3 separate regions of the Homo sapiens genome follow, and regions 2 and 3 are each reported to be linked to region 1. Evidence: microRNA targets listed by miRTarBase, many of them from high-throughput screens and not tested one by one. Region 1 holds a microRNA gene; each other region holds the end of a gene's coding sequence.
What was found. The annotated mature microRNA hsa-miR-328-3p reads CUGGCCCUCUCUGCCCUUCCGU and lies in region 1 at 2,646-2,667, opposite strand. An mRNA with a match to its seed (bases 2 to 7 or 8) in the 3' UTR can be bound and repressed. Matches are read on the target gene's strand: a 7mer-m8 pairs with bases 2 to 8, a 7mer-A1 pairs with bases 2 to 7 and ends in A, and an 8mer does both.

Region 1 (7,188 bases):
AGGTGGAGCCTGACGCACTCTGAGCGTTACGCCCTGCAGTTTGCGGATGGGCACCGGAGATACATCACCGAGAATGTGAGTCCCCTCTCCCCAGCCCCAAGCTCGGCCTTCCGACCCCTCTAACCCACCTGGCCCCGATAACTCTGGCTCTTCATCCCACTACCGGAGCGCGATCTGTTATTCACCCCCAGCCGCCCTCACCGACACCCCAGTTGATCAGTCCTCGGAGCCCTCCCTGACCTCGCTGCCTTTTCTGCTGTCTTCTCCAGAACCGCGCGGAGATCAAGAATGGCAGCATCCTGTGCCTCAGCACGGCCCCAGTAATGCCCCTCCCGTCCCGCCTTCCCCATCCCTGCCCCTTTGCTCCAGGTCCAGAGGCCCCCCGCCCCGGAGGCCCCCGCCCCAGCCCTGCCTTGCGCCACCTAGTTGACGCCCGGGGCCGCACACTTCCAGGTCCCACCCTTACCATGCCCAGCCTCTTCACCTCTGCTCCTGCTCCGTTCCTGCCAGGACCTTGAGGCTGAGCAGCTCTTGGGTGGGCTGCAGAGTAACAGTCCTGAAGGGCGCCGGGAAGCCCTGAGGCGCCTTGTTCCGCTGGCCTCGGACATGATCTTTGCCAGGGAGGTCATCAGCCGTAATGGGCTCCAGATACTAGGCACCATCATTGAAGATGGGGACGAGTGAGCACAGGGATGTGTGGGCTGGGGGAGATGGTGGGTCTTTCTGGTCCTGGGGTGGTCCTGCTCAGCCCCAGATGTCCCCCCTCCAGCCTAGGAGAGGTGCTGGCCCTCAGCCTGAGGGCCTTCTCAGAGCTCATGGAGCACGGCGTGGTGTCCTGGGAGACTCTGAGCATCCCCTTTGTGAGGAAGGTGGGTGGGCTTTCCTAGGGCAGCGGGTGGGGGCAGTGGAGCAGTGGGGCAGTGGTAGACCCGGTCTTCCATGGGGGTGAGGTGGTGACACCCCCGCCCCTTACAGGTGGTGTGCTACGTGAACATGAACCTCATGGATGCCTCCGTGCCTCCCCTGGCCCTTGGGCTGCTGGAGAGTGTGACCTTGAGCAGCCCAGCCCTGGGCCAGCTGGTCAAGAGCGAGGTGCCCCTGGATAGGCTGCTGGTGCACCTACAGGTGTAAGCCTCTGGGGCTGGGGTCCAGATGCAGGGAGCAGGGCTGGAGCCTGAATGTTCCACTGAGCCCTCTTCTTGCCATAGGATGAACCAGCAGCTGCAAACCAAGGCCATGGCCCTGCTGACAGCCTTGCTGCAGGGGGCCAGCCCTGTGGAACGCAAGGTGAGTGTCGATCGGTGGCTAGATGGGGGCAGCACCCGGTGGGCGCTGCCCCACCCTGAAGCAAAATCCTCTAAGCCCCCCTTTTTTTTTTTTTTGAGATGGAGTCTTGCTCTGTCGCCCAGGCTGGAGTGCAGTGGTGCGATCTTGGCTCACTGCAAGCTCTGCCTCCCGGGTTCACACCATTCTCCTGCCTCAGCCTCCCGAGTAGCTGGGACTACAGGCTCCCGCCACCACGCCCAGCTGATTTTTTTTTTTTTTTTTTTTTTTTTAAGTAGAGACGGGGTTTCACTGTGTTAGCCAGGTTGGCCTCCATCTCCTGACCTCGTGATCCGCCCGCCTTGGCCTCCCAAAGTGCTGGGATTACAGGCGTGAGCCACCGCGCCCAGCCTAAGCCCCCTTTCTTTCTACCCCCTCAGCACATGCTTGACTATCTTTGGCAGAGGAACCTTCGCCAGTTCATCTATAAGGTAGGAAGTGGTGGGCCAGGGGGACCTCTCTGCCCCTCCCTCCCCGTGAGCCCTCGCTTACACCAGGGACTGGCTGTCCTGCAGAACATCATCCACAGTGCAGCACCAATGGGCGACGAGATGGCTCATCACCTGTACGTACTGCAGGCTCTCATGCTGGGGCTGCTGGAGCCGCGCATGCGGACGCCCCTGGACCCCTACAGCCAGGTGTGTGTCTTTGGTGAGGACAAGGCAGGGGGTGGCTTAGAGCTTGGCCTTGAATCTATAATCTTGATCCCCTCCCCCGCCACCCAACACTGACCCCAGGAGCAGCGGGAGCAGCTGCAGGTCCTACGCCAGGCTGCCTTCGAGGTGGAGGGGGAGTCCTCGGGTGCCGGGCTAAGTGCTGACCGTCGCCGTTCCCTCTGTGCCCGAGAGTTCCGCAAACTGGGCTTTTCTGTGAGTATCACCCCTACCCAACTCCCCACCCCTGCCTCAGCCCAGGGCTGTTGTTCCAGGCGGCCGTGGCCCTTCTTGAACTGCCTGTGCCCACTTCCCCCAGAACAGCAACCCAGCACAGGACCTGGAGCGCGTGCCCCCCGGTCTGCTGGCCCTGGACAACATGTTGTACTTCTCCAGAAACGCGCCCAGCGCGTACAGCCGGGTCGGTGACAGGGTAGGGTGGGGGGGTGGCAGCATCCCCCAGGCAGGGTCCCCATGGGCTTAGCTGTGACTCCTTGCCCCATTCTCTGCGCCCCCAGTTTGTGTTGGAGAACAGCAGCCGCGAGGACAAGCACGAGTGCCCCTTTGCCCGGGGCAGCATCCAGCTGACGGTGCTGCTGTGTGAGCTGCTCCGTGTTGGGGAGCCCTGTGAGTGGCCTGGACTGGGCACAGCATGGCCAAGAGCAGGGGACGGAAGGGCAGAGAGGGCCAGGGGCTGTATGCACTTTCTCCCTGAGCCCCTCCTGCCCCCCCACTCCAGGCTCTGAGACAGCCCAGGACTTCTCACCCATGTTCTTCGGCCAAGACCAGAGCTTCCACGAGCTCTTCTGTGTGGGCATCCAGCTGTTGAATAAGACCTGGAAGGAGATGCGGGCTACACAGGAGGACTTCGACAAGGTGGGTGGGGTGGGAGCTGGGAGGCCTGGGCCAGGGCAGGGGGCTGATCTGGGTACAGAGCTTAGGCCCTGAGCTGAGCTTGGGCGGCCCCAGGTCATGCAGGTGGTGCGGGAGCAGCTGGCCCGCACTCTGGCCCTGAAGCCCACTTCCCTGGAGCTCTTCCGAACCAAGGTGAATGCGCTCACTTATGGGGAGGTGCTGCGGCTGCGGCAGACTGAACGGCTGCACCAGGAGGGCACACTGGCTCCCCCTATACTGTGAGTCTGGGGGGATGGATCCTCAGTCCTAGCCCTACCTTCCTTGGTGCCCCCTGGGCTACTCCCCAGGTCAGATGTGCTCAGTGACACCCCTCTATCAGGGAGCTGCGGGAGAAGCTGAAGCCAGAGCTCATGGGCCTGATCCGCCAGCAGCGCTTGCTCCGCCTCTGTGAGGGGACGCTCTTCCGCAAGATCAGCAGCCGGCGGCGCCAGGGTCTCTGAATGGGCATGGGCAGGGGGCAGAGGGCAGGCAGAGGGCAGGCAGAGGGCGGCTGGCTTGGTGTCAGGACCTCTCAGCACTCTGGCCCTCTTCCCTTTCTCCACGCAGATAAGCTGTGGTTCTGCTGCCTGTCCCCCAACCACAAGCTGCTGCAGTACGGAGACATGGAGGAGGGCGCCAGCCCGCCTACCCTGGAGAGTCTGCCCGAGCAACGTAAGGCGGGCAGGGGCGGGGGCCAGATACCTGCTCTCCCCAGACCGCCCTGGGCCCCGGGGCTGCCAGGGCTGCAGTGCTCAGCCCAGCCTTCTTCCTGCAGTCCCTGTGGCCGACATGAGGGCACTCCTGACAGGCAAGGACTGCCCCCATGTCCGGGAGAAGGGCTCCGGGAAGCAGAACAAGGTGAGTACAGCGGGCCAGGGGCTCCTTCCCACCCGCCCCCGCCTACCCTGTCCCCTGCTCAGTGTCCCCGCTCCCTTGCTTCCCCAGGACCTCTATGAGTTGGCCTTCTCAATCAGCTATGACCGTGGGGAGGAGGAAGCGTACCTCAACTTCATTGCCCCCTCCAAGCGGGAGGTGAGTGTCCGCCAGGCTGAGGTCGGCAGGTGGGCAGGGGAGGCAGATGGGCAGACCCTCACGGCTCTGTGCCACCCCCAGTTCTACCTGTGGACAGATGGGCTCAGTGCCTTGCTGGGCAGTCCCATGGGCAGCGAGCAGACACGGCTGGACCTGGAGCAGCTGCTGACCATGGAGACCAAGCTGCGTCTGCTGGAGCTGGAGAACGTGCCCATCCCCGAGCGGCCACCCCCTGTGCCCCCACCCCCCACCAACTTCAACTTCTGCTATGACTGCAGCATCGCTGAACCTTGACAGTGTGGCTGGCCATGGGCCACAGCTGCGGCCACTGCAGCAGCCATGAAGGGCAGTGGGTAGAGGAGTGCAGGCACCCTGACCAGCAGAGATTGCTGCAGAAATAAAGTCTGCTTGGCTCTTGGGATATGTTGAGCCAGCTCTGTACCTTGCGGGCTGAGCCTGTGACAGTGACAGTCTTCCCCTTCTGCCTTCAAACTTAGCTGGTGGATAAGATGGGGCATCAGGCCAGGCCACAAACTTTGACAGCTACGGTTGAGGGGCTGGTGTTCTGAAGGGGGTGGGGAGAGGCTGGGACTGCAGCCTTTCTCCAAGGTGAGTCCTCAGCCTCCCTCCATGCTGGGCCTGCAGGGAGGGTTGGCCTGTGGTCTGGGGGCACCTGCCAAGGGAGAGGCTGAGCTGCCGGCCTGCTGCAGGAGAACTGGCAGGGTAGGAGGCACTGCCCCAAATGGATGCCTTCCTGGACAGCGTTAACAGGGGCGTAGTCTGGGAGCCATCTCCAGAAGGCTCCTGACAATCTGACCTCAGTCCTCAAGCTTGCATGGCCCTGCCTGGTGTCCTTTGTAGGACTTGGAGTTCTCTGGTGAGAGGCATGAAGGGAGAGAGGCAGAAGGGCAGGGTCAGGATCCCCAGGCTGGTAGGAGGATGTGGGCTGATTCCAACAAGAGCCACTTCTGTGCAGGAAGACCCGGTTTCTGATTAAAACCTAACTCAGGGCCGGGCTTGGCTCACGCCTGTAATCCCAGCACTGTGGGAGGCTGAGGCAGTCCGATCACCTGAGGTCAGGAGTTCAAGACCAGCCTGGGCAATATGGTGAAACCCCGTCTCTACTAAAAATATAACAATTAGCTGGGTGTGGTCGAGCACACCTGTAATCCCAGCTATTCGGGAGGCTGAGGCAGGAGAATCGCTTGAACCCGGGAGGCGGAGGTTGCACCGAGCTGAGATTGCACCACTGCACTCCAGCCTGAGCGACAGAATGAGACTCCATCTCAAAAAACAAATTAAAAATCTAACTCAGAACCATGGGTAGGGTGGGGGCCATAGACAGGCCAGAGCCCCTGGGGGCAGAAGCATCGAGGAGTATTGGGCCCAGCTGGAGGTTTGGTCACAGGGGCAGAGGCTGTGATCACAGACCCCAAGCCCGTGAGGAAAGAAGAGCCTATAAGTCTGTGGAGCTCACAGGATAGGCTGAAGCCACTGCCCCTCAGACTTCCCCCTGCCATTCACCTCTTCTCTCACCAGTGCTACCTCCAATATCTTTTTTTTCTTTTTCTTTTTCTTCTTTTTTTTTTTTGAGATGGAGTTTCACTCTTATTGCCCAGGCTGGAGTGCAATGGTGTGATCTTGGCTCACTGCAACCTCTGCCTCCCAGGTTCAAGCAATTCTCCTGCCTTAGCCTCCCAAGTAGCTGGGATTACAGGCATGCGCCACCATGCCTGGCTAAATTTTTTGTATTTAGTAGAGACAGGGTTTCACCATGTTAGTCAGGCTGGTCTCTAACTCCTGACCTCAAGTGATCCACCCACCTCGGCCTCCCAAAGTGCTGGGATTACAGGCATGAGCCACCGCACCTGTCTCCAATACTTTTTTGTTTGTTTTGTTTTTTGTTTGTTTTTTTGAGATGAAGTTTTGCTCTTGTTGCTCAGGCTGGAGTGCAATGGCACCATCTTGGCTCACCATACCCTCTGCCTCCCGGGTTCAAGTGATTCTCCTGCCTTAGCCTCCTGAGTAGCTGGGATTACAGGCATGCGCCACCACGCCCGGCTAATTTTGTATTTTTTGTAGAGAAGGGGTTTCTCCATGTTAGTCAGGCTGGTCTCGAACTCCCAACCTCAGGTGATCTGCCCACCTCGGCCTCCCAAAATGCTGCGATTACAGGCGTGAGCCACCGTGCCTGGCCCCAATACTGTTTTTAACTGTTAACCATCAACCTGGCTGACCTTGAGAACTGATGAAACTCAGTTTCATCCCTCAGTGCTCAGCCCTCAGTGCTGGAGGGCACTTACTCCCCCTCCCCCAGCTAAGCTGCAGATCTTTGGGCATCCAGGGCCCACTATGCCCATGCCTAAGGACTTCCCACCACAAATGGAGCAGTCGGCCATTGAGTTATAGGTGGAAATGGGGGGCAGGGACCCCTGATGCTGTCGGCCTCCCTGTAACTGTCAATTATTCCTTCTTAATGTCTCCAGTCCCTTGTGCATGCCACCATCATAGCAAAAGCCTCCTGACTTCTGGCCTCCTGTCTTGCACTTCCAATCCTCTCAATACCAGCTACCCCAACTGCTTTCTCCGACATAAATCTGATCATACACACACACAAACATCCCATATATTTGATGTCACCCTATCCATGTCCATGGGTTAATGGCCACAGTTTCCATGGCTGAGCCTGAGTTGAGCCAGGTGAGTCTCAGACATACCGTGGTTTAGCCCTTCCACCTGAGCACCTGTGGCTTGCAGGGTTCTCGATGCTTGGTCTGAGCTGGCATCCTCCCTGCCTAGACTACCCCCTCAGTGCCAGCTCTGGCCTGCCTGTGTGCGTCCCCACAGTGCCTTCTACCTGGATCACCCCCTTCCTTTCTTCTGGCCATTTTCACTGCCCTGATTCCTTCCTGGACCCTCCAGGCCCAATTTGTTGCTCCCTGGGCTCTGGTCCCAGGTGCTTGTCTCTCTCTTCACCCGCACCCTGCACACTGGACTGTCCCTGCTAGCTGGCTTCTCTGCCTCCCCAGCTGGCCCTGGGGCTGGGAGAGCTTTGGCCCCTCTGAATCCCCACATAAAGCACAGTCCCTGCAGGTACTGGGGGAGCCCTGGCTCGCTGCTACAACCAATGAACAGGGATATAGACGAGGTGCGGGGACACACCAAGGGCCAGACCTGCCATGGAGAAGTCACCAGCACCATTGAGGGGGCTGGATTAGGTGACCTCTAGTGACCCCCTCACCCAGAGATGCTGGCCTCTTTCATTCTTTTCTTCTTATTTCCCCCT
Region 2 (7,188 bases), not on the chromosome of region 1:
TGTTTCTCTTCCTCTAGGGTGAGTTTAGGTACTAGACTCTTCTGTCTACCCTCAACTCAATATGGTTTATCTAAGGTGTTTCTCGTTTTTCCCTATGCTTTTCTTGAGAGAGAAAGAACCACTGGAAATCTGTTTAGAGATCACTGAAACCAAGTTTCTGAATAAATCACATAATAAATATAACCACCACCACCACAGCCATTTATTAAGTGCTTGCCAGGCACTGTGCTAAAGCTTTACAAACATTGTTTCAGTTATTCCAACAACCCTGAGGTAGATATTTTCAACATGCCTCCCTCCACCCATGTTATTATAGTTGAGGAAACTGAGGCTCAGAGAGGTTAAGTAAATCAACCAAGGTCAAACCCAGCTGGTAAGTAGTGAAGCTAGAAATTCAAACCAACTATATGTGACTCCAAAATCCATGCCTTTAAACACTATCCTAGATTGTTTACCATTGAAAGTTAAAGGACATATGCTCCTTCCCAAAATATGAGAATAGATTTTCAGTGGGAAAGCAGGGGGGAGCCCATATGTAAATTCTTTCATCAGCTATGGGACTCAAACTCTTGGAGGAGTGGAGAGATAGTCTGGGTATAAGCTGACCACTAGGTCCTCTCATCTCTCCAGCTGCCAGGGCCTTTCTCATTAAGATCTCTACTCCTGACATCTGACTACGCAATATACTGTTTCCCTTTCAGCAACCACTGGGATGCAGAGGTCAGGCACATTTGGTGACACAGAGCCAAAGACACCTCAGAGAAATTAGGAGACACTCAAAAAAGTCCACCACCCCTGAACTACTGATCCCTAAGGCACACAGATGCATTTAGATGGAAACCCTCCATGAAGGGGACATGTTCCACGTCATGTTTGATGCCCATCACCACCCTGCAAAGGGGATATTGGTATCTCCTTCTGACAGCTCAGTTCTTCCACACCAGCTTCCCGGGCCTGACATCATTCTCACAAAGTCTCCTCAGCAATCCCTGCACCTCTCCCCTCAACTGGCCCTTGTAGGTGCCCACCCCTAACCCACCTCTGGAGGCCTCACTGACCACACGCCCCCAGGCCTCAAGACTTCCCGTTTCTGAGGTTGTGCCCAACAGAAATGCCCTCAAAGTGCTCAGCAAGGCTCCATTCATCCATGACCTATGAGGATTAAACCAAGATGGCTGAAGACAAGCAGAAGGGGCTACCACAGTGAGACAAGCTGAACCAGGATGTACAGAACTGACAATGGAAGGGCAAGAACACACAGCAGACACAAAACAAGAGGACTAGCCATGGGCAAAATAAACAGAGCTGTCAAAAATCAGAAAAGGGAGACGGCCCTAAGATGATCAGGGATGACCAGAGAGAGGGATCCTAAAGACAAGTCTATTCACACTTGCAGCCATGGAGTTTCTGAGGGAAGGACAACTGTTTAGGAAAAAGGGTCTTGGTAAGGAGGCCGCTGGAGAGACTAGGCAGGAGACAGCTGAATAAGGGAAACTGCAGGCAGCTCTGGAGAGGGAGGCTGGAACATCCCTTTAGAGCCAACAGTTTGAGAAGACATCAGAGAAGTATGCAGGCAGTGGAAGACAAGCAGCTGAAGGTCTCAAAGGGGAGTAAGACACCAGCTGAAAGGCCAGACTCTGGAGCCCTGAGCTACTTCTAGGTATACCTCATCATCTACCCCATCTGGGTGAAACTGGTCCCTGAGGGTCATTCCCTGCAGCCCCTGCTAAATTCTGTACCAGATTTTGAAGGGTGGAAGACCCAGAGGTAGGGAACCTACTGAGAGGCGAGACGCAGCCCCATTTTTGGGAAGTTCCCATTCTGAAAGAGAGAACCACCAACCCGCATTCCTTCATCCTTGGATCCTCTAAGGCACTCACTGCATTCAAGTCACAAAACTGAGGAAGAAATACTAGTATAAATTAATACTGTCCTTGAAGTTTGAAAGGACAGCAGAATATGAGAAGTAACACAGAGACATGGGAAGAGCCAAGGTGGGCTGCTCCACACCTGAAGACTCATCCTATTACTGAACCTCAGCACTGTTTACACATCTGGCCTCAGAGGCCTCAGAGCCCCTCCACACAGCCACAGCTGCACTGATGTGGGGTTGTGGGGACATCAACGTTGCTAGGAAGCGTAGAGTAGCGAGGCCCTCTCGGGGGAGCCCAGAGGCTTACAAGGAGCCTGGGTAGAGCTTTGCTCTCTACTGGTTTCCTCCTCTCTCAACAGTCCCTAATCTTGTCCACACAGGGTGCACGATATACAAGTGTGGCCTTATAACCTCTGGTTGCTTCATGTAATTTCTTCCCCAACTAAGCAGAAGCTCCTGGGATTTGATAAGGACCAGATTTTCCTCACGCCCTACAGTGCTGGAATGTAACAAGTACTTGTCACAGGTGGGCTATGAGGGGTGTTGACTATTACAAAAACATTTTCCACAAATGGCAAACACATGTCAAAACTTTTCCACTGTTATTCTTTGCCTTATAGCTTGTACCTGACACTCATCTATTTCTATCTTTGTTGGCTCATGCCCAAAGATGTCTGTTCCTATATCCATCTCAGGCTGGCAACTGGGTCCCTAATCTTTGTTAAGAAATACAAGCTCTGCCCACTTGTGGCAATACTGAAAGAGGATGTAGCCCAGGAGTCTCTGGGGGCAGAGGGAGGGAGTGTCTCCCCATACTGGGCTGGCCCACTGATAAGGATCCTTCCCCTCTCTGTCTCCTAACAGATTCAGATTAATGATCGCTCATTCCTAATTGTCAAATTTCTTTTCCTTCATCCTGTGTCTAATCACCAGTGACAGAAACCATTACGCAAATGAGAGCAGACGACTTCCCCCAACTGTTCACGTTGGTAAAAACCTTGTAATTTAGAGCTCTGATTTGTAGGGGAAGCTGGTCTCCCCCAGGCATCCTGGGCATCTGCTCAACTGATGCCCAGAACAGCCCCTCCTCCAACCCCAGAACTCCAACCCCCAACAAATATTTGACTTTACAAAACACTAGTTTTCTCTGTACCTGCTGGTGTGAATAGATGAGCCTGCAGCGTAGCTGACCTCTATACAGGCCCAAACCCCCACCTTCACTTGCTGTATGTGTGTGTCCCACACTGCCAGCTAGGATGGAGGTAAACAACTACAGCAGAAATGTTTCCTCTGTGGCAAGCAGAATTTGAGCCTAAACATCCCTCAAAAGGTAATCGAAGGGGAAAAACCTCATCTTTTCCTTGGGGGGAAGCAGCAGCTGAATATGAACCAAGACCCTTAGTGCCATCTAGAACTACAGCTTCAGTTCTATAGATGCAAAAGCATGCCGGGAGGAGTTATGGGTCCTATTCAAGGACACATAAGTAATGCAATTAGACACAGAACTCAGTTCCCCCCACAGCTTCTTCTAGCACTAATTCATAATATGGCTTCCCAGGCAGTTTTTCCAAGACTTTGTTAGCAGGAGCCCAGAAGAACTTTCACCCTGAGCTGTATATTCTGCACCATCTTGGGCTGGGTCTGCCTTCAGATACTGCCCAGTGGGGTGATATCTTGAGGACAGAACCTGTGGTACAAGGAGGGAGGTAAGGAAGGAAAATCAACATAGTTTGGTGGAAAGGAAGGAGCAAGGGGTTTGCAGCCTAACAGTGCTAAGTTACAACTGATTGTCACTAATCACCTAATCTCTCTGAGCCCATTTATTCATCTGTAAGTGAGAATACCTACCTTGCAGGATAGTGAGGAACAAAGAGAAAAGCACTAGGCACATATTAGGTGTCTAAAAATCAGGAATCACTCTTGTGTTACCCAAGGATCAAGGCCAATCCTGTGAAGGTTCCAAGATTAGCCTTCTCCCTCCCACCCCTCAGCCACCTTAGTGAGACCTGTGTCAGCAAATAACTCAGCAAGGACCAGCTGAGTGCATGCCTCCTTGACACATCACCCACATCTTTGAGCGCTGAGCGAGGAATACAGCAGACCTGCTGAGGAGAACGAAAATAATCTACTATCTTTCCAAGTGTGACTGTGGCCAAGTTTTTCCTCCGCTCCTGTGCTCCTCTTTCCCAAAAGAAGTGGAGAGATAGAGATCACTGCAATCACATTTCCCAGCATTGACTATATTTGAAAGAGCTACACTTGAGAAGGTACCATATCTTCACATCCACACTGCATCAGAGAACCCCAGAATGGGGTACTAAAAATAAACACCCCTCCCCAAAAAACGCACTCAGGCATGCACACACATCCACACGCATCCTCTCAGTTCATCAGTGCACTATAACTGAGCTTCAGGGGTGAGAGCCAGAGCTCAGATGCTGGAAGTAAACCTTTGGCAAAAAAAAAAAAAAAGAAAAGAAAACCAGAGACCTTCCAACTCCTCTTCCCTTCCAGAGAGAAGGTGATGAAGACAGGAGCAGAGGTGAGGAGACACAGGGCCACCACACTGCCCAATCCCAGGGACCCCACTCCCACTGAATAGATGTGAATGATGGCCCTTCAAGTTGTGCAATCACAGCTGCCCACCTGTAAGCTGCAGCCCTGAGAGGGGTTCCCAGGAGTAGCTCCTAACAGAAAAGGAAATTCGACTTCCATGCTCCACCAGTTGCCCTGACTATTGAGGGTGTTGTGGCACATTACAACGGGGTCTGGCAGAGGAGCTGGCTTTAAGACGCAAGCCTATGTGTTTGCCCGTGCCCTGAGGTGGATCACAGGTAGTGAATGAGCTGCCTGGGCTTGACCCCATTTCATCTATTCAGCCAGGAAGCTCAGCAGGAATAAAGGATATGGCCTGGGCAGGGAGCATCATAGGGCCTGGAGGCTCTAGCCAGTTAGCCTCGGGCAGGCTGCAGTGAGACCTGGCCAACATATGATGGCTAAAATCCAAGTGTAAAAGCTTAGGATAGGTCAGGCAGTACTTCCCGGGGGCTCACACTGTACTGTCCCACTGGAAAAGGTAAGCAGTGGAGAACCTTGGTAAGTAGGGAGGCTGGCCAGTGTGGACACACACACACACACACACGGACACACACACACACACGCACGCACACACACACACACACCCAGAGGCTTGCACCCCTAGTGTGGATACGCACACACAGACACACACAAACAAACACACAGAGGCTTGCACCCCTAGAACCTAGAGAAGCCACAGCTAGGAGAACTCCCTTGGTACCCAGCATAGGGGCAAGAGCTGGTGCTGAAAGAGAGAAACTATATGTGTCTCTAATTTAGAACTTATGCACAATCATTGGTTCTTATGTCCCAAGGTCCTTTTATGTATGGCTTGAGCTTGTAGGCCCAGTTGGAACCCTATCTAATCCTCTCTCACAGGAAGGCTATATAGGCTCTCAAAGGCAAGCCTCCCCTCTCTTTCACCCCATTAGAGTCCCGGTAGCCATTCCCATACCGCCTAGAGCTTGACTACGCAAAAACTGTCAGGAGGCAGACTGACCTAATGGTCAGACTAGCTCTGGCCCTGCAGCCCAGATGCAGTGGGGAGTCCAAGAGCATCTCATCTCTCTCTCAGGCTGAGGCACTGAGGTTGCAGGAGATAGGGCTGAGAGCCGGAAGTGACAGCCTGACCCAGAAGGAACAGGGAACAGATACATACATGCGTGTGCATGCACACACACGCACACATTCCGAAGTTGACAGACTAACATACACACAGACATGATGACAACCAAAAGCTGGGACTCCACACACTGAATGCAGGACTTTAGGCGGGGGGCAGAGAGAGAAGGTGCTGGGGCACAAGAGGCAAGGGTATGAAGTCCCTCCAAATAGGAGTGGAGTGCCAACTGCCCTGCCTCGCTCCAAACACCTGACTCCTGGGCCATGGCAAGAGTCCAGTCCATTAAGTGCAGCGTGCAATACTAGCGCTTGGAGTCTCCTGTCCTCATCAATGAAGCGGTGTGGACGGGATAGCAGTCACCTGGCAGGAGGCCTTGACCCCTGGCAGGCTAGTTGTATCGGCCCTTGATCATTGTGTTCAACAAGGGCCCCACCTGTAAAGAAACATGAGGAGCCAATCAGAACTGGCTGTTCCCTGGCCCTGGAATTGGACAGGGTGTGTCTGGAGACATCAGATGTCCAGCCAAGGACAGAGACAATGTTTTCATACAATCTTGTGAATCCTCTAATCACCTATCTTCCTGAAGGTCAACCCAGTATTCTGGGACATAGTCTTTCCCTCAGGGGTCCATCTTGTACTATTATTCTTCTCTCGCACAACACCGTCTCTTACCGTAATCTGCCCCAAACGGACAGACATGGTCAGAGAAGCTAATAATCCCCGAACACCCAAGAGTGTCTATATGTTTCTCCAGAATGTTAACTGCCTCCATATCCTCAAAAAATGATCATCTGCAACTGGGGCTGATGCTATCTCCCAACACCACAGGTGTCTGTGGATGCTGAGGTTACCTCCAAGAGGCAAGCAAGAACCCTACAAATACAAACCTCCCCCATTTACCCAATGGGCCACTGGCACACCTGCATGGGAAGCAGGTCTCTCAACATTACCTACAGCAGCCCTGGCACAGCTGGGAAAGTGCAAGGAGATGTGTTAGTGCTCGCTTCCTGTTCCAGAAGAATCCCCTCAGGGGGTCCCCAGATGGTACATAATACCCATGGGGAACATTACTACTAGCATGGAACTAATTATAATTGATCTGCCAGTCAAGCCCAGCTATCACCAGAAAACAAGAATTTTTCTGAACATACCCATAACCTCTATGGAGAGAGAGGACACCAGACACTGAAACACAGAAGCTGTAAAGAATGTCGCTCTGATCCTGACTTTCCTTGGTCAACCCACCCACTGAGCCACCTTGGGGCAGTCACCTACCTCTTGTGGGTTCCCCAAGGCCTCTCCAAGCATCTTCTCAATGTTTCTCATTATGGCCACTTTCTGATGAGCTTTGAGAGGATATTCAATTCTCTTAGGGGTGGGAGCCCCCTACAAAGGAAGCAGTAGCTCAGGAAATGCCTTTAGCAGCAGGCGTCAGTGTCACTCTACTGTTCTTAGTACCATCCTCCCTTCTAAGAAACCCAATTCTTGCCGGGCACGGTGACTCAGGCCTATAATCCCAGCACTTTGGGAGGCCGAGGCGGGTGGATCACTTGAGGTCAGGAGTTTGAGACCAGCCTGGCCAACATGGTGAAACCCCATCTCTACTAAAGATACA
Region 3 (7,188 bases), not on the chromosome of region 1:
AAGTCAAATGAGAGGGTTGGGGTCCACAGTCAGAGTCCCACCTGGTTGGAGTCAATAGTGTAGCTATACTTGTCTGCATGGATGGAGGCCAGGGAGGCAGACACCGCAAAACTAACCAGTGCAATGGGCAGCGAGTCAGCCAGAATCCTGGGCAGCTCAGCCAGGTTGGGGAGGAGGGGTTGGGGAAATCTGGAGAGGGAGGGATCCATGGTGAGGAGGGGTTAGGTGCTTCAGTGAGATAAGGAAGGCAGAGAAAATGGGGGGTGGAGATAAGAGGGAGTGTTGGGTGGGAGAGGTGGGAGAAGAGAAAGCTGGCATCTTTTCATTCTCTTACCCTCCAGGCAACAGCCCCACTATCTGGACTTGGTATCTTGTGTCCACAGAAGAGGTGAAGCAGAGCACGGAGGCCAGAAGCACCTGAAAAAGAGAGCAAAATGAAGGCATGGGAAGAGATGGGGTCCCTGGCAGAAGCTAGAAGGGGCTGACCATGAGAGAGGACCATAATGCAGGCCTAGCTGGCTGCAGGAGCCCAGCACCTGGGGGAGCGGGGATGTGTTTGGGATGAGGGCCTGACAACTGATTTGTAGTGTAGAGCTGGGAAAGAGGGATGACATATGCCTGAGGCCACAGAGCCTGGAGCCGTGGAAGTAAGAGGACGCTTCTGTGAAGGATGGTGGATATGAAGAGATGCCACTGAGCCTTCCAAAGAGGGAAGCTGGACGATATCTAGTGATATACTGGCATCTGTGGAGACGCGGAACGTTTATTTAGTTGGGGAGAGAGAGAAATGTCGGTGGAGGGTGGAGAGGGAGATGCACTGTGAATTACAGGGAAGGACCCTGGTGAGGACAGATGTCAGAGAAGGTGCTGTGACCAGCAAGACCTCAAGGGAGCGCTGTAGGATGGCAGAGGAAACTCCAAGAGGTCTAGGGGGTGCTCCGTGAGAGACGTGGGACAGTGTCGAGGGGGGCTGTGGAAGGTCAAAGCGTCCTTCTGCAGGAGGCCAAGGAAAGTGTGAGCCGGCCCTCTGTTCCGTGGCCTCTCTGCACTCCACCAGGGGGCGGCAGCGGCCAGTTCCCACAGGACCGCAGGGTCTGCGCGGGCAGGGGGCCGGCGCGCACGGCCATCCTCACCAAGACGACTTCCCCCGGGATCGGCGTGGGTAGCCGGTCTCGGAATCTCACGTTCAATTCCTTGACCGGCACGAGCAGCGCCAGGCTGAGCGCGGAGATGGTCAGTTCGGCCGGACTGCTCCGAGGCAGCGCAGTCAGCAAGGAGGCCAGCGTCTGAGGGCAGGGGCGATGAGCAGAGGGCCCCGTGCCAGGGCTCATGCGCCCCGGCGCGGGACCCCCAGAGCGAGGCCCTCTCTACCCAGTGCCACCAGGGCTTACACCTCCTCAGCGCCCTCGTTCAGCCACGTGGCTCCAACCTCCTTTCCTGCTCCCTTGTCACATACTACCCCTCCACCCTCCGTCCTTCCTCCCTTTTCGAGTTTCCCTATTCACGGGACCTCTAGAAGCCCCTTCTCCTTTCTTCTTCCACCCCCACCTTGAAGAGAGAGAAGCAGCCGATCTGGCGCGGGAGGGACAACCCCAAGAGGCTCGGCAGCTGGGACAAGAGCACGTGCAGCGCGGCCCCGCTGGTCAGCGCCTTGACCACAGGCTCGGACAAAAAGGTGGACAAGACGCCGAGCTGCAGCACGAACATCCCCAGCTGTGGGGGAGAAGACGCGCTGTCACCATCTAGAGGAGGAGCAAACCAACCCCGCGCACCTCCGCCCTCCCGAACCCAAGCCGAAAGCTGGTCCCTCCCTCTTCCCCGGCCCAATTTCCCTGGCCCCTCAGCAGGGATCCCCCCGGGTTCCTCCCCGGGTCCTCCCTCACCATCAACGCCCCGCTCCCGAAGGCCACGGCCGCGGCTACCCCAACCCGTTGAGCGTCCAGCTGCTCCTTCTCGATTCCGCTCAGATTCCCCACGAGGGGTTCCGGCACCAGCCGCTCGACGGCCGAGCCTGTCATGAGGCTGAGTATGGCGAAAGTTCCTGCCGCCGGGGGACAAATGCAGACATCACCAGCTGTGCAGCCCTGGGCAGGGCAGCAGCTCAGGGTCCATGCCTTGGGTCCGAGATCCTGCTGCCAGACTCGGCTCTCCAAGAAGGCTGCTGCCCCGTCAAGACTGTGGGGCGCGAAGAGCTGCGCTAGCCGGCAAAAACTGCTCCCTCCTGCAGATTCTCTGCCTACTGCGTGCCCCTTTGGGGGACCATGCACCTATTCTTCCCCTTCCAAGTCCCTGAGATGTTCATTTTAACCAAATTTCATAGGGGAAAAAAGTTCAGGTAAACTCCCACCTCTTTGCACCCACTCTAGCAAGCATTGCCTAGGTCAGTTTCCTGGCAGGGTTGGGCAAGGAGGGAGGTGAAGGTAGGAGAGGTGAAGAGGGAAATTAGGAAGAAGGGAAATAACAGCCCCTGTCCATTTTCATCCCATAGGGAAGAAGAGTCATTGGAAGTCCCTGGTCACTCACCTGTGGACAGGTGTCTCCCAGTACCTAGCAAGCTGTAGATGAGGACGGGGAAGAAAGAAGTGTAGAGTCCAAACACCGGGGGCACGGAGGCCAGGAGAGCAAAAGCCATGCCTGGGATAGAAGTGGATGGAAAGGTGTGCTGTGGGGAGGGGGCCTTGTCCAACCTCCAGGACTTAAATGCACTTCCCAGACTCTTAGGAGCTGACATCAAGGATGCTAAATCAAGCCTCATCAGGGAACTGAGGGGTTAATGGGCCTCAGTGAGAGGTCATGGAGCAGACAAGGTCAGGGACGCTGTGGCCAAGTCCTGGGGGCCAGGCGTTGTGCCTCTCTCCGGTTCTCTGAGCCAGAACCTGTCTAAGGCTTCTCGCAGGATTGCGCAGATGAGGGGAGGTGGGGATGGGGATCTGATGGAGCTCCACAGTCCTTACCTCAAACTTGGCCTCAGATCCCTCTCTCCCACCCTCGACGGTAGGAACCCACCATCTGCTCCCGGATTCCCAGCTCCCTAAGCCTCCTCCCGGAAGCCCTCTAGAGCTTGTGCTCCCGACAGGCTGCTGTTAGGGCCTCTCACCCTGGGGCACGTGCACGATGCCCACGGTCACTCCGGCCACCGCATCTCCGAGCAGCCAGGCCCGCCAGCGGTAATGGGGCAGCCAGTGCAGCGCGGGCAGCCGAGCCAGCAGCAGGCGCCACGCCCCTGTCCCGGAACAAGCGCGAGCCCGCAGCCTCCACAGCCCGAAGAGCCGGGGAAAGCCGCGCTCTTCAGGTAGCTCCGGTTCCTGCTCTTCGCCCCTGAAGAGCTGATGGAACCGAGCCTCGGTGAGAGCTTCCCTGAGCCTGGTCGCCAAGGGGTACTTAAGGTCAGAGGTGTCCCCCGCGCCTGGGTAGGTCCTGGTGCCCTGAATCCCGCTCATTCTGCCCTTGGCCACCTCCAACTCCGCCCGGTCTTAAATACTCCTCCGCCCGCTAAGCCCTGAGTCCCGCCTCCCACGAAGCAGGGTCCAATCCGGCCCTGAGGTCACCCTCGCTTGAGGACCTTCTCGGGTCTGGCGAGAGCCGCGGCTTGGAGAGGGAGAGTCTCTATGTTAGGCGTTTCTGCAGACATCCTTGGCCGGATCTGATCGCTGGCTCTGGGGTGGCTGTGGAAATGTGTAGATATTAGAGAGAGAGAATCCGAAAGGCAAGCGCACCCCGACACTCAACACCCGCTATTTACCCTTCCTTAGACTTTTCACTTAACTCCCGGTTCCTTTCCCCATCGGCACCTTGGGCGGAGAGAGAGGCTGGTTCCTCTTGGGTCACTGGTCCTTCCCTGAGCCACTACATTCTCCCAGCCAGAGCAAAAAAGTTCAGCGCCCATCCTGAACCTCACCCAGACCCACATCTTCATGGGGCACAGCTGGTTCCAAAAAGCAGTTTCATGTCCTACTGACATGGAATGCAGCCACATGTATTGGAGAGGGATAATGACAGAACCAGCACCCACACCTCTGTGAGGAGTGGCTGGGCCTAGTTCAGGGCCTCAGGGGAAATACTGAACCCACAGGATATTTTTTTCTTAGGAACCAAAAAAACTGAAGCACCATTTATCACATTCAAATGCTTTTCACAGGCCAGGTGAAATGGCTTACGCCTGTAATCCCAGCACTTTGAGGCCGAGGCAGGTGGATCACCTGAGGTCAGGAGTTTGAGACCAGCCTGACCAACATGGTGAAACCCTGTCTTTACTAAAATATACAAAAATTAGCTGGTTATGGTGGCAGGTGCCTGTAATTCCAGCTACTCAGGAGGCTGAAGCAGGATAATCGCTTGAACCCAGGAGGTGGAGGTTGCAGTAAGCCGAGATGGAGCCACTGCATTCAAGCCTGGGCGACAGAGCAAGACTCCATCTCAAAAAGAACAAAAAACAAACAAACAAAAAACAAATGCTGTTCACAAAGTAGGCATTCAAAAGCACATATGTGGTCAAACTAAGTTCAAAGGGGTCAGCCACCCCGCTCATGTGTCCCTATGGTTCCTAAAGAAATATAAAGGTTCTAACTCCAGAATCCTGCTGTTTGCCATGATCCTCCACCCCCATTCACAAGAATCTTCGGCACCCCTCCCCATGATCCTCTGGTCCCCCAGTCCACGACCCCAAAGCCCGGGGGGTGGGGTGCAGTGAGGGTGGGTCTCCCTTCTTCAGTTCCTCCTATTGTTCCGCAGAAGTCTTATCTGGGCGCTACATCCTGTACCCCCCTTAGGAATCCCTCCCTATTATCGGCTAAAGGGACCTCGGGCCCACAGGGAGGCTCCAGGTCTCCTCCTCACCCTCCCACCCCAGCAGTCTATTGTCTGTTGAGGAAGCCCAAGTGCACGTGACTGAGCCCAAGGGACGAATGGATACAGTGGACTCGGAGATGCATTAAGGACCCAGGACAGGGCATCTGGACATGGCTGTGTGAATGTTTGGCTCGCTCTGTTCCAGCGGCTCTCCCAGAAGTTGGGAGGGGTGAAGATCCCCTTGGGCTGTCCGCTCTTGGGTCCATGGCTTGAAGAAGAATCCCCTTCTGCTCACTATGAACATGGCTTATGACCTCGCAGAGAGCAAAGATAAGGAGACCCAGAGCCAGGAAAAGGTCTCAGCCCCCAGGATCCTCTCCACCTTCCCATCCTCCCTCAGCTGAACATGGTAGCCTCAGAAGGAAAGGTACATTGGCATTTTGTGCTTTCGTATCTGGGTGTTGGGGGAATGGTGAGAAGTCACACTGCATTGGGCTTTCTGGTGGGGTCTAGACCAGAGGGTGGGTAGGGAAAAAGAAGGGCTGGGTAAAGAGGATACATCAAGAATCTAGGGCTGGCCAGATGCAACGGCTCATGGCTGCAATCCCAGCACTTTGGGAGGGCAAGACTGGTGGATCACTTGAGCCCAGGAGTTCAAGACCCTGGGCTACATAGTGAGACCCTAACTCTACAAAAAAAAAAAGGGAAGAAGAAGAATCTAAGGGCTTTCCAGTGGTTCCATGCCTCAGTCTTTGTCCCTCAACTGCTGCAACTGCAGTTGAGGGACAAAGATAGCAACATCTTTTATCTTACACCCTGTCCCCTTCTCCTTTCACCAGACCCCCTCCTCCAATGGCTGGGGCCAACCGATCTCTTCCATATCACTTCACCCCACCTACCCCCACTACAGCCTCCCCTTCCCTCTGCCAAGACAGCAGCCTCGGTGATATAACAAAACCTTTATTCTCAGAAAACAGGAAAAACAAAATTAAAAAACAAAACCAATAATTTCTATCTGGCCCCTGCCCCAGCCCTCCCACCCACCCACATATCCTCCTTTTGGGGGGACCATGATGCATGCATAGGGATGGGAGCTGAAGGAAACTGTGTTCCTTGGGCAGAAAAAAGTCCTTGGGTCTAGGTGTTCTCCTCCAAGTTGATATCCCTCCCAGCCTTGCCCACCCTCCAGACACACCAAGAAGGAGGAATTCTGGAGCAGTGCCAGAAGGACTGCCCTGAAGCTCCTTGGGGAATAGGCGGCTGAGTCAGCACCACCCCCATGGTTTTCACCAGTTACAGCTCATCTTCATCCAGCTTGGCAAGTCTGGCTTGGCAGGGAGGGGTTTTTGGAGTTGGAGAGACTGGAGGAGAGTCATGGGGAGCCTGGGGGATGTCACCAAGGGCCTGAAGAAAAGATTCAAGTCAGAGGATCAAAAAGGCCAGAAATCTACCCTCACTTCTCTCTTTTCAGTTTAAGTCCCTAGCCAAGCCACCTCCTCTTGCTAGATATCTTAGACTGTCTGAGACTATCAGCTTCTCCAGAGTTAAAATAGAGGGGAGAAGCGTAAGGGATGGGAAGTAGGAAGGACCAGATAAAAGGAAGGAATGATATGGGGAGGGAACTTGGGGTCCCAGAACAAGAGAGGCTCTCCCCTTTTTATCCCTACAATGAGGGAGCTCTATTCGTCATACCTGTTTATCCAGTGGCAAGAGGGCTCTGGCCACCTCCCCTTTGGGTGACAGCAGCAGAGAGGGGAGAGAGCCATTGATGGGTGTGTGTGTGCTGCCCTGGGCCTGATCTCCAAGCTGAATTCTTCCAGGGCTCCCCACTCCAGGCCCTCTTGGCCGCCCCAGGCTGTTGGTCTGGCTCTCCCGTCTCTGGTACTCAATGGGTGACTGCAATGCTGGAGCAAAGAGAGGAACAGAAGGAGGGTTACCGCAGAGACAGGTCTGCTCCCTAGGGCCTGTATCATTCTCCCACTTTGCCCTCCCTCCCTGTCAGCCAATGTCAATTGCTTAGGGCTTTAGGGGATTCTATCAAATTTTGAGCTAGCAGTGGAAAAGGGGATGGGCCATGGTCAGAGGGTAGGTACTGGAGACTGGGCAGTGAGGGATTCAGGAGGTTAAGGGGCTGAGAGAGCACATCGGGAAGAAAGGATGAGAGCTTCACCGTTGAGGAAGTCCCGTTGGCTCTCCAAGATCTGAGCCACATGCTTGATCCAGGCCTGACTGATAGCAGGGTCTGCAGCCTGCAGGACATAGCGCTGGATCCCACCCTCTGGCCCTCTGGAGGTCAGTGCAAAGCGGCAAGGGTCACCTTGGAGGTTCCCCTCCAGTCCCAGGCAGCTCACCTGAATTGGCAGATAGGAGACAGCCCCCAGATTCCTCAGGCCCTCCCTG

Region 2: miRTarBase lists HIF1AN as a target of hsa-miR-328-3p. Seed matches in the 3' UTR shown: 7mer-m8 at 5,470-5,476, 7mer-m8 at 4,486-4,492 and 7mer-m8 at 1,009-1,015.
Region 3: miRTarBase lists ARHGEF25 as a target of hsa-miR-328-3p. The part of its 3' UTR that is shown has no 7-base or 8-base seed match.

Annotation. Positions count from the first base shown.
Region 1 is chr16:67,199,682-67,206,869 of GRCh38, forward strand. MIR328 (microRNA 328) reads right to left here and starts at 2,714; the gene lies at 2,640-2,714. ELMO3 (engulfment and cell motility 3) reads left to right here. Exons shown (of 20, transcript NM_024712.5): 3 at 3-75; 4 at 270-320; 5 at 511-680; 6 at 770-869; 7 at 976-1,127; 8 at 1,209-1,287; 9 at 1,704-1,754; 10 at 1,839-1,961; 11 at 2,061-2,192; 12 at 2,296-2,397; 13 at 2,495-2,603; 14 at 2,716-2,852; 15 at 2,946-3,109; 16 at 3,211-3,323; 4 more. The coding sequence ends at 4,196.
Region 2 is chr10:100,546,911-100,554,098 of GRCh38, reverse strand. HIF1AN (hypoxia inducible factor 1 subunit alpha inhibitor) reads right to left here. Exons shown (of 8, transcript NM_017902.3): 7 at 6,849-6,959; 8 at 1-6,006. The coding sequence ends at 5,962. Among named protein-coding and RNA genes, the nearest start is that of HIF1AN, 15 kb to the right of the region's middle.
Region 3 is chr12:57,615,788-57,622,975 of GRCh38, reverse strand. It overlaps ARHGEF25 (Rho guanine nucleotide exchange factor 25), which reads right to left. Exons shown (of 15, transcript NM_182947.4): 13 at 6,959-7,139; 14 at 6,481-6,692; 15 at 5,731-6,192. The coding sequence ends at 6,082. It overlaps LOC101927583 (a long non-coding RNA gene), which reads left to right and starts at 1,073. Exons shown (of 4, transcript NR_120450.1): 1 at 1,073-2,335; 2 at 2,489-3,345; 3 at 4,139-4,236; 4 at 4,346-4,571. It also overlaps the pseudogene SLC26A10P. RefSeq lists enhancers at 1,695-2,514, 2,652-3,218.